2 separate regions of the Homo sapiens genome follow, and region 1 is linked to region 2. The links come from fine-mapping of genetic effects on gene expression. A gene starts in region 2. The other region holds a variant in brackets. All regions are shown on one strand. Distances are between the middles of the regions.

What was found. PIP is the estimated chance that this variant, and not a neighbour inherited with it, causes the effect. A credible set is the group of variants that fine-mapping cannot tell apart.
Region 1: its variant is the best candidate, but not a certain one, in a credible set for the expression of MEI1 in whole blood (TOPMed, PIP 0.86).

The regions. Positions count from the first base shown.
Region 1 is chr22:41,815,767-41,821,139 of GRCh38, reverse strand. All of the region lies in intron 6 of CCDC134 (coiled-coil domain containing 134), which reads right to left. Among named protein-coding and RNA genes, the nearest start is that of SREBF2, 15 kb to the left of the region's middle. The variant T/G (reference allele first, on the strand shown) is at 2,576.
Region 2 is chr22:41,696,371-41,701,743 of GRCh38, reverse strand. It overlaps MEI1 (meiotic double-stranded break formation protein 1), which reads right to left and starts at 2,241. Exons shown (of 31, transcript NM_152513.4): 1 at 2,032-2,241. The coding sequence starts at 2,205. It also overlaps the pseudogene C22orf46P. RefSeq lists a silencer at 2,169-2,268 and enhancers at 4,482-4,861, 4,872-4,951.

The DNA.
Region 1 (5,373 bases), 120 kb before region 2:
TACCTCCCAGCAGCGTCTGACACACCGATCGCTCCCTCCCTACTTCTAACGCTTTCCTCATGTGGCCTCTGGGAAACTCTTGGGTCGGCCACCATCATGCTGACTGCTCCTTCTGCGGGTTCTCGCTGCTTCCTCCTCAGTCCTTCAACCTCTATCTCCAGCCCCATCCCAGGCCTCAGTCCTCAGACTGCTTCTCTACCTGCCCGATGCCCCAGATGACTGTGTCCTGTCTCACGGCTTTTGGTGCCTTCTACATAGGCATGGCTCTCACATTTATAAGTCCAGCTTCTCCTTCCTCCCTGAAGTCTCGAGTCAAATATCCAGCTACCTCCTTGACATCTTTACTCCGATGTTCACCAGGTGCAGAAAAAAACTCTTACTACCCTCCCTCTCCAAGCATTTGAAAAAATGAGTCCCATTCTTCCAGACACTCAGGCCAAAAGTCTTCTAGTCATGCTTAACGCTCCTCTCTCTCTCACCACATATGCTTCCTCAGCAAATCCCACTGGCTCTACTTCCAAAAGAGAAGCAGAACCTGACCATTTCTCAGCAGCTCCACTGTCATCGTCTGGTTCAAGCCACTATCAACTGCCACACAGATGAGCACAGCAGCCTCCACACCTGTGTCCCTGCTTCTGGTCCCCGACCATGCTCCACACAGCAGCCAGATGACCTCTTTAAAGTGGTAAGTCTGCGCCTGTAATCCTAGCTACTCAGGAGGCTGAGGCAGGAGAATCGCTTGAATCTGGGAGGCGGAGGTTGTGGTGAGCCAAGATCGCACCATTGCACTCCAGCCTGGGCAACAAGAGCAAAAATCTGTCTTAAAAATATATATATAAATAACGGCTGGGAGCGGTGGCTCACACCTGTAATCCCAGCACTTTGGGAGGCCGAGGTGGGCGGATCACGAGGTCAGAAGATCGAGACGATCCTGGCTAATATGGTGAAACCCCGTCTATATTAAAAATACAAAAAAATTAGCCGGGCGTGGTGGTGGGTGCCTGTAGTCCCAGCTACTGAGGAGGCTGAGGCAGGAGAATGGCGTGAACCTGGGAGGCAGAGCTTGCAGTGAGCCAAGATCGCGCCACTGCACTCCAGCCTGCGTGGACAGAGTGAGACTCCGTCTCAAAAAAAAAAAATTATATATATATATATATATATATATATATATATATAAAGTGGTAAGTCACAGCCTGCTCTCCAGGTCCCTCAGGGTAGGTGCCAAAGCCCTTGTGAAGACCTCTGAGGGTCTCAGGATCAGGCCTACAACTCTGACCCCATCTCCTGACACTCCCCAGCCCCAAAATATGCTTCCAACTCACAGCCTTTGCACTTGCTGCTCCTTCAGCCTGGAATGTTCTTCCTTGGGATACACAGATGACTCCTCATCTCCTTCAGATAATTCAGTAAGACAGTACCCAGGCCATGTGAAATAGCAACTGCACCCCCACCTTACCCCGGGCATTCCTTAACCACATTCCCCTGCCTTTTTTCTCCACAGCCCTTGTCACCACCTACCACATTATATATTTTTAAGTTGACTGCCTGTCTTCCCCAACTAGAATGCCACTCCCAGGAGAACAGGGCTAGCCTGCTTCCCCAAGGGGCAGGATGCAATAGATACTCACTTGATGCTGAATGAATGAATGTGGGATGCATCTGAGCCTTTGCATAAGTTCGTCCCTCTGCCCTGAAGGCCCTGCCTCAGCTGGTCCACCCAGCAAATAACTCATCCCACCTCCCTGCCAAGGCTGGGTCAGGCTCGCCTCAGAGAATTATGCTTCTTACCAGTATAACAGTTACACCGGATTAGAACTATTTCCCTGCTGCCTTCCCCATCAGACTGTGAGCATCTGAGGAGCTGCGACAGGGCCAGCCCCCTGGACAGGGACAGTGGCTGGCACACAGCCTGATACGAGTTGACTCTAGTGATGGGTACATAAGAAGCAGGAGAACTCAGAACTCTCACCAGCATGGAGGGAGTATGTGAGGGGAGCCAAGCAAATCTGGGGCTCCTGCGAGAGACAAGTCCACGCAGGATATCAAAAAGTGAGGAAAATCTCAGAACTGTCCCCATCCAGCATGTAAGGAAAGTATGTTGCTGCTGTGGTTATGTCCAAGTAGAATACGTTATGATAAAGCTGGACTCAACTTATCCTGGCACCCATTCTCTCTGTGGCCTATGCTGTCACCCTCCTCCTGCGTTTAAGTGAGGCATCTATGACCTGCATAGCAAGAAGAACTGGCATCACAGCAATAAAGCATCTCCATGGGTAACCCCTTGCTGGGAAAGGCAATCTGCCATGGCCTTGAGTGTCCACACATGTTTTCTTGCTGCATAAACCAAGAACGGAAGGCCGTGGCTGTTCTTGATCTGGGCCATTTATCAGGGTAATGATTGCAGCATGCAACCTTGGGGTATGCGTCATTTCAGCTGGGCATGCAGGGGTGGCAGCTACCCCACTGAGGAAACAGCATCCCCGACTCTGCCACATAAAGCAAAGCCACTGGCTCAACAGGACCCTCGATTCACAGGTTCCCCCAAGTACTCAGGCCTAGCCCACTGTAATTCAGC[T/G]AATATAAAAGCTAATAGTGTTGTACAGAAAAGAGTCAACACAGCTGGCCTGACTCCTAACCTTTGAAAGGCCTGCTTCCAAGGTTAGCCCTTAGCAGACATCTGGGAACTTGCATTTCAGGAGGGTCCCCACCACCTTAACTGCTAACTGTGGTTCGCTGTGCCTAAACTGTTTGTGCAAACAATATGGTTTCTGCTGAATACATACTTTGCTCCGGGGAGTTTGCCATTTTGATATGTTAGGCAAAAAGTACCCACATGACTAGCTCCCAGTAAAAACCCAGGCACTAGGTCCCTCATTAAGTTTCCTGGTAGAAAACATTTTAAACACGTTGTTACAACTAATTGCGGGAGGAATGAAGCACATCCTGTTTGACTCTACTTGGAGGGGACTCTGGAAGCTGAGCCTATTTCCCCTGGACTTTGCCTGATGCACCTTTTCCCTTTGCTGATTTTGCTTTGTATCTTTTCTCTGTAGTAAATCGTGGCCATGAATATGACCATATGCTGAGTCCTGTGAATCCTCCTATTGAACCATCAAGCCTGGGAGTGGTTCTGGGAACCTGACACAGGTGTCCATGGGCAGCAACAGTCAGCCAGCCCCAGTAACAATGCTGGCTGATTAACTGCCATAAAGGCCAGTCAGACAATGGCCTGAATTAAAAGGTATCACCCTTGCTTGGATGACACTCCTTCCTAACAGCCATGCATGTTATATTCTTACTGACTATTGTCAGTGTCCTGGTCATCTGGAGATTACAAACTGGCAGATCAAAGATACCTACCCCTCTCTTTTTATTTATTTATTTATTTATTTATTTATTTATTTATTTAAGACAGAGTCTTGCTCTGTTGCCCAGGCTGGAGTGCAGTGGTGCAATCTCACCTCACTGCAACCTCTGCCTCCCGGGTTCAAGCGATTCTCCTGCCTCAGCCTCCCGAGTAGCTGGGACTACAGGCATGCGTCACCTCGCCCGGCTAATTTTTGTATTTTTAGTAGAGACAGGGTTTCACCATGTTGGCCAGGATGGTCTCAAATTTCTGACCTCAGGCAATCCGCCTGCCTCGGTCCCTAAGTGCTGGGATTACAGGTGTGAGCCACCATGCCTGGCGATACCTACCCCTCACCCCTCTTTAGGGCCACAGACTATGGAAACAAATTGTGGTGACAAACTAGACAGCCTGGCTCACTCGTTTAGATGCCCATCATAAAGCTCAATCTCTGAAAAGACCAAATGGAGTCAAACTGCTGATCAAGCCTACTTCATCCAGATCACTGCCACTGCCACCTAAACATATCATTCTACTTGGCATGGTAACATACCCACTACCAAGGAGTGGCACAAAACAGAGGACTGTATATTTCTGGTTCAACTACCTGAGTCTCTGGTTGGAATGGTACAGCCTGAGATTGTTAGGATTGTGACCACTTGGCTGAGTATCCTGCTTGCTGATTTCCCTGCAGTGGCCCATGTGGGTAAAGAGAAGAGATATAACAGGTCTCTATACATCTGTAAAAATGCCCTGGTCCCATTCATACCTGACATTTCTGAATGAAAGATCTAAGTGATAGTAGGCAACAACTGGAGAAAAAGTGAAACTATAGATGCTGGCATAGGACATATGCTTTTTGTTTTGTTTTGTTTTTGTGAGACAGTCTCACTCAGTCGCCAGGCTGGAGTGCAGTGGTGCGATCTTGGCTCACTGCAGTCTCCGCCTCCTGGGTTCAAGCAATTCTCCTGCCTCAGCCTCCTGAGTAGCCAGGACTCCAGGCATGCGCCACCACACCCGGATAATTTTTGTATTTTTAGTAGAGACGGGGTTTCACCATGTTGGCCAGGATAGTCTTGATTTTCCTGACCTCATGATCCGCCCACCTCGGTCTCCCAAGGACACATGGATTTTATAGCAATAATCCTGCCACCTGGGGAGGATATACCTTAGATCCCAGAAAGTGCAGGGAACAATTAATGTTCTCTTTATCCCTTAGATCCATCACTGCCACCTGGCAAAACAATCCTAGGGTCTGCCCAAGCCCAGTGGCAGCTGCAGCTGTCAATATGGCCAACTGTTGGGTGTCTCATTTCCATCCACATGATAGGAAAACTCACATGGACACGTCAGTACTGAGCTATTCTGCTGTGTCTAATGCCATCAAAGGTAGTTCTCAACAGTGACCTTGTGCAGACACACCAGCCAGCACAATTTTGTTTCAACCTGACAGATACAAATTCATCTGCTTTTCCTGATGTCTGAGTAGCCTTGGATTATACCATGTAGGCAACTGAGGCTGAAGCTCCACAGTGACACTGCCCTCAGGCTCAACTAAACATTGTTCTGGTGACTCAAATCAAGCGTAACATGTGGGAGAGAATGGGTCATGGAATGTCTCCTTATGGGGGCATGAGGGTTGCTTGGGTCCATCTATTGCCCCCTGTACTTATTGGCAGTAACATCAAAGATTGGCAGGTCAATCTAAACTCTCTTATGTGGGTGGTCGTGGATAACAGATTGGTCTTAGACAATATCCTGATTATCCAAAATGAGACTTACTGGTCCTCCAGGACCTTCACAGCTGGTTGAGTCCAGGACCCTGTTCAATATTGCAGGTTAGGGGCCAGACACAGTGACTCACACCTATAATCCCAACACTTTGGGAGGCTGAGACAGGAAGATGGCTTGAGCCCAGGAGTTTGAGATCACCCTAGGCAGCACAGCAAGAACCTGTCTCTGAAAAAAATAATAAATTAATTAGCCAGGAATGGTGTCGCACAGGCCTGTCGTCCCAGCTACTCAGG
Region 2 (5,373 bases):
CCTGAACAGCACTTGACTACAAACATGTTCATTCTTCTAAGTTCTAACATGTTCTCTTATTTCTCCCCGCTGCACTGTCTTATTCATCTCTGATTTACTGTCCAAGAAAAGCAGCCTCAGAATTTCCATCCTTAATGAAAATTCAGAGGTTATTAGCTAGTTTACGAGTTCCCAGAGCACAGTGTGGGAATTCCTAAGGGTGCCTAAAACACTTCCCAGAGGTCCACAAGAACAAAAATATTTTCATATAATATTAAAATGTTCTTAGTCTTCCTCATTTTTTTTTAAATTTTTTCCATGTTGGCCAGGCTGGTCTTGAACTTCTGGCCTCGTGATCCAACCACCTCGGCCTCCCAAAGTGCTGGGATTACAGGTGTGAGCCACCGGACCCGGCCCAGTCTTTCTCATTCTTATTCTCCCACAAGTGTACAGTGGAGTTTTTGAGACTATATGACATGATAGCACAACAGACTGAATGCAGAAATAGATAAAAATCCAGCTGTTTGGCCGGGTGTGGTGGCTCACGTCTTTAATCCCAACACTTTGGGAGGCTGAGGCAGGCAGATCACCTGAGGTTGGGAGTTCAACACCAACCTGACCAACATGGAGAAACCCCGTCTATACTAAAAATACAAAATTAGCTGGGCGTAGTGACGCATGCATGTAATCCCAGCTACTCGGAAGGCTGAGGCAGGAGAATCGCTTGAACCCGGGAGGCGGAGGTTGCGGTGAGCTGAGATTGCGCCATTGCACTCCAGCCTGGGCAACAAGAGTGAAACTCCATCTCAAAAAAAAAAAAAAAAAGAAAGAAAGAAATCAAAATATTTGAGAACGCAGCCAGGCACGGTGGCTCACAGATGCAATCCCAACACTTTGGACTTTGGGAGGTCAAGGCAGGAGAATTGCTTGAGACTAGGAGTTCAAGACCAGCCTGGGCAACACAGGGAGACCCCCGGGACCGTTTCTACAAAAAAAAAAAAAAAAAAAAAAAAAATTGAGAACTGCTGATCTAGCCAATCCACCCACTCACGAATTCCCCTCCCATGAATTGGAGAGAAACTTGACCTCCCAAAGTCTTCTTGGATGCCTCCATGGACAAGAAAACTCACTGCAGGTCGGGCACCGTGGCTCACGCCTATAATCCCAGCACTATGGGAAGCCGAGGCGGGTGGATCACCTGAGGTCAAGAGTTCGAGACCAGCCTGGCCAACATGATGAAACTCCGTCTCTACTAAAAATAGAGAAATTAGCCGAGCGTGGTGGCGGGAGCCTGTAATCCCAGCTACTGGGTAGGTTGAGGCAGGAGAATCGCTTGAACCCAGGAAACAGAGGTTGCAGTGAGCGGAGATGGCGCCATTGCACTCCGGCCTGGGTGTCAGAGCGAGACTCCGTCTCGAAACAAACAAAACCACTTCATTGCAAACGCGGTAGGCAATGAGGACCCAGGCAGCCCGCTTTGGCCAGCTCTGCCCAAGGAACAGTCTTCCCGTTCACCCCCACTTCTGCCCGGCTGTAACCTGTCACTCCTGTCCCCTCGGAGCCCAGACTGCCCCTCCTCCGATTCACACCCCGACAGCTGAAGGGAATGAGGAGCGGCCGCCGCATGCGCCCCTGGCCCGCAGGTGAGTGGAGGCTGAAATGGCGGGAGGCTGAAATGGCGGGAGCCTGAGCTAAGGCCGAATCCCCGGGAAATGGAGGCAGGGGCAGCAAAGGGAAGGAGCCAGAAGGCGGAAGGCGGGAAGGTGTGTCCCTGAGACTGGGTGAGGTCCCGGGGGATCCGGATTTCCGTCCTTTCAGGCGCAGAGCCAGTGGACCGGGCTCCACGGAGGCCCGCAGGCCGGCCTGGGGCTGAGGGGCCCGAGAGGCCGCTGCGGCCGGGTCCGGGACGGGCTGACAGGGAGGAGAGTGAACACAGCGCGGGGGCCCGGTTTCGCGTCGGGTTCACCGGAGCGGGTCTGGCAAGGGCCTGGCCGCGTTTGCTGAGGGAAATGGCCAAACCCAGGTCTTCTGAAGAAAAGGTTCCGCCCGCACCGACACGCCGGGGTCCGGCAGCAGCTCCAGCGCGCAGGCCAGGCACAGGCGGGGGGTCACGGGCAGCAGCCAGCGCGGGTCGTGCCGGTAATGGGCCCTCTCGAATAGAAGCGCCGCCTCTTCCTCTCTCCTGGGCCCGGGAGTGCCCGCCGTCGCCGCCTGCCTCACAGCCATCTCCTCGCTTGCCCTCAGCTGAGGCGGCACTCTTTCCCGCGCAGACTGCACGCATGCGCACTTGGAGGACGGACCTGCGTCGGTGTGGAATGCGCCTGCGCGGACCCAGGGCGCTGCAGTCTCAGACGAGCAGCAGCCACTGAGGGCAAGTGGTGGACGCAAGTGCTCTGGATCGTGTCTAGCTAAGCCAAAAGCGGTTTGTGCTTAGAACCCTGCAGGAATGTCTTTACCACATCCAAAGTTGAAAAGCAATTATAAAGTAGGGGGCATTTGCCTTGAAAAAGGAAGGAAAGGAAGCTATTTCTACTGTTTTTTAAAAATGAAGGCCGGGCATGGTGGCTCACGCCTGTAATCCCAGCACTTTGGGAAGCCGAGGTGGGCGGATCACGAGATCTGGAGATCAAGACCATCTTACCCAACATGGTGAAACCCCGTCTCTACTAAAATACAAAAAATTAGCTGGGTGTGGTGGCAAGTGCCTGTAATCCCAGCTACTTGGGAGGCTTGAGGCAGGGGAATCACTTGAACCTGGGAGGCGGAGGTTGCAGTGAGCTGAGATTGTGCCACTGCACTCCAGCCTGGCGACAGAGCAAGACTCTATCTCAAAAAAAAAAAAAAAAAGGAAAATAAGCGATCCCAAGGATTCGCATCTAAAAGCAATTAGAGGCTGGGTGAGTTGGCTCATGCCTGTAATCACAGCACTTTGGGAGGGAGGCTGAGGCAGGAGAATCACTTGAACCTGGGAGGTGGAGGTTGCAGTGAGCCAAGATCGCACCACTGCACTCCAGCCTGGGTGACAGAGGAAGACTCCATCTTAAAAATAAATAAATAAATCAGAAGCTTAAGACCAAAAAATAAAAGTAAAAAAACAAAACAAAACACCAAAGACAGAGAGAAAGAAGTTCAAGACCAGCCTGAGCAACAGGGCGAAACCCCTCCTCTACTAAAAATACAAAAATTAGCTGGGTGTGGTGGCTCATGACTGTAATCCCAGCTACTCGGGAGGCTGAGGCAGCAGAATCGCTTGAACCCAGGAGGCGGAGGTTACAGTGAGCGGAGATCAAGCCACTGAACTCCAGCTTGGGCCACAGACCTACACTCCATCTCAAAAAAAAAAAAAAAAGCGTCCCATGCAGAGGACCACCCCTCCCCATAAGCAGCTGAGGCTTTTGGAGTGTCCTGCCTCAATCAGGATTAGCTTGGAGACAGAGCAGGATAGAACCTCAGTGGACTCCACTGTGAGGAGCTGGGGGGCAGGTGTTTCGGAGAGGACACTGGGTTGACCCACATTCCCTAAACCACAACCACAGAGTGGAAGGGGCTTCTACCCCACCCACAAAGTATCCCAAACCCCGAAAGGGGGCACTTGGAAAATGTGCCAGAGAAATCAGAACACCACAGGGCCCAAATGACCAATTTATTAGAGGCTTTGCAGGGATCAGGACACTCTCAAAGCTTTTCTGATATGTCCTGAGGACTCTGGGCCTGAGTCTACTTTTTAAAGCCATTCTGGAAGAGAAAAAAATTCAGATGCTTCATAATACTAAACTTTTTGGAGGCTCGTGTATTCTGTGGAGCCCCATTTGGGTTCCCAGGTGCCTCCTGGCCCTGGGGACTCTCTGTCTTAGGAAGGGTGGCCCCAGTACAGCAGTGACCTTGCAGCTGAAGATCCCTCTGTGAAGCAGTGTGATCTCCGATGCTGTCCTCCCCTGCACGAGGATCACCCACTTTGGGAGGCAGAGTAGAATCAGGTTCCCTCAGGCTCAGGTTAGGGGCCAAGTGCTTGCGCTTGGCGAGCTGTGGGGACCAGGACATCTTGGCCAGAAGGGTCAGGCCCAGCTTTGCCACCGCAGAGTGGAGCCTCCCTTTGAAGCTGACAGGTTCTGCAGAATGGCAGGAAGGCTGCTGCCCAGCCCCTCTGCACCCTGTAGATTCCAGGCTTCCTCTTCTCCAGTATGTGAGCTGCTGGCATTTGAGTCTGGGGAGCTTAGAGGCCTCCCAGGATGTACATTCCTTCCTCCAGTGGGCGTGGTCTGCCCTAGAGAATGAAGTCCTCACTCTGCTGGGAGCCCTCTCTGCCAGCTGGGAGACCCTTGACCTGATCATTTTCCTGCCCCTACTGTTCTCACTGGGAGGCTCTCCGACCCTTTGTGGGCCACACCAGCTCCTGGACTCCGCTGCCGGCCTGGGGGTCCTGGGAGCTGGGAGCTTGGTCCTAGCAAGCGCTTCCTGGATCTCCTGTGGTTCTCTGGCGCCCCCTGGTGGCCTGACTCTCCTGGCCTTTTCAGGCTGGATGGAAATGCTTAATGGGCTCTGACATGTGCGGTCTGTTCCTCTCCAGAGCTCTGGCTTGTATAGGAAGTTTCGAGCTTTTTCTGTCTGGGCGCTGAACCCTCTGGAACCTCTCTGGGGACTTAAGGCCTGGTGGGGAGCCTTGGGCCTCACAATACCTTTCCTGCTGGGCTTGGAGCTCCTGGCCTGTGTTCAGTCCAGAGAGCCTCGCCCCAGCAAGGGTCAATGAGCAAGATCCTAAGAAGTTAAACAGGAAATAGGACTCCAGGATCCGCCGGGGAAGACCCCACTTCAGGTGTGCAATCCTCCTCCGCATGAGGGACTCCAGGAGCAGTCGTTTGCTCTTCTTGAGGCCTGTCCCCTTGGGCAGGACAGTGAGGGCGGTGGGAGGACCCGCTAGAATGATGGCAGCTTCCGGGGCTGGGCCACACGGGAGACAGGAGCAGGCAGAGGGCATGCCCAAGGGAGCTGTCAGAGACGGAGGGTTTTGGGACTGCCGAGTCAGGCTGGGGGCCTTCTCTGGATCCACCCCTTTGTCCCTTTGTCGTCTTCTCCAGGATTCAGGTTGGGCCTGCTGGGAGGCTGGACTGATCCCCACTCTATGATCCCTGGCAGGGGTTGTGCCCTGGCTGGCCAGATGCTCTCCCTCCCCACCCACCAGCAGGAAGACTTCACCCCAGTGGGGGACAGGATTCATCTCAGGACAGGGGGCAGAGATGAAACCATTCACAGCCACTGCCTGTTCCTGTTCCCGGGTCCCACATCCATAGCCAGTGAAGGCTGGAGGCCATGGTAGGCTGTGCTTCCTGCCTGTGGGCCTCTCACTCCCAGAACAGTCGACTTGGAGACTGTCCCTCACAGCATCCTCTCCTCTGA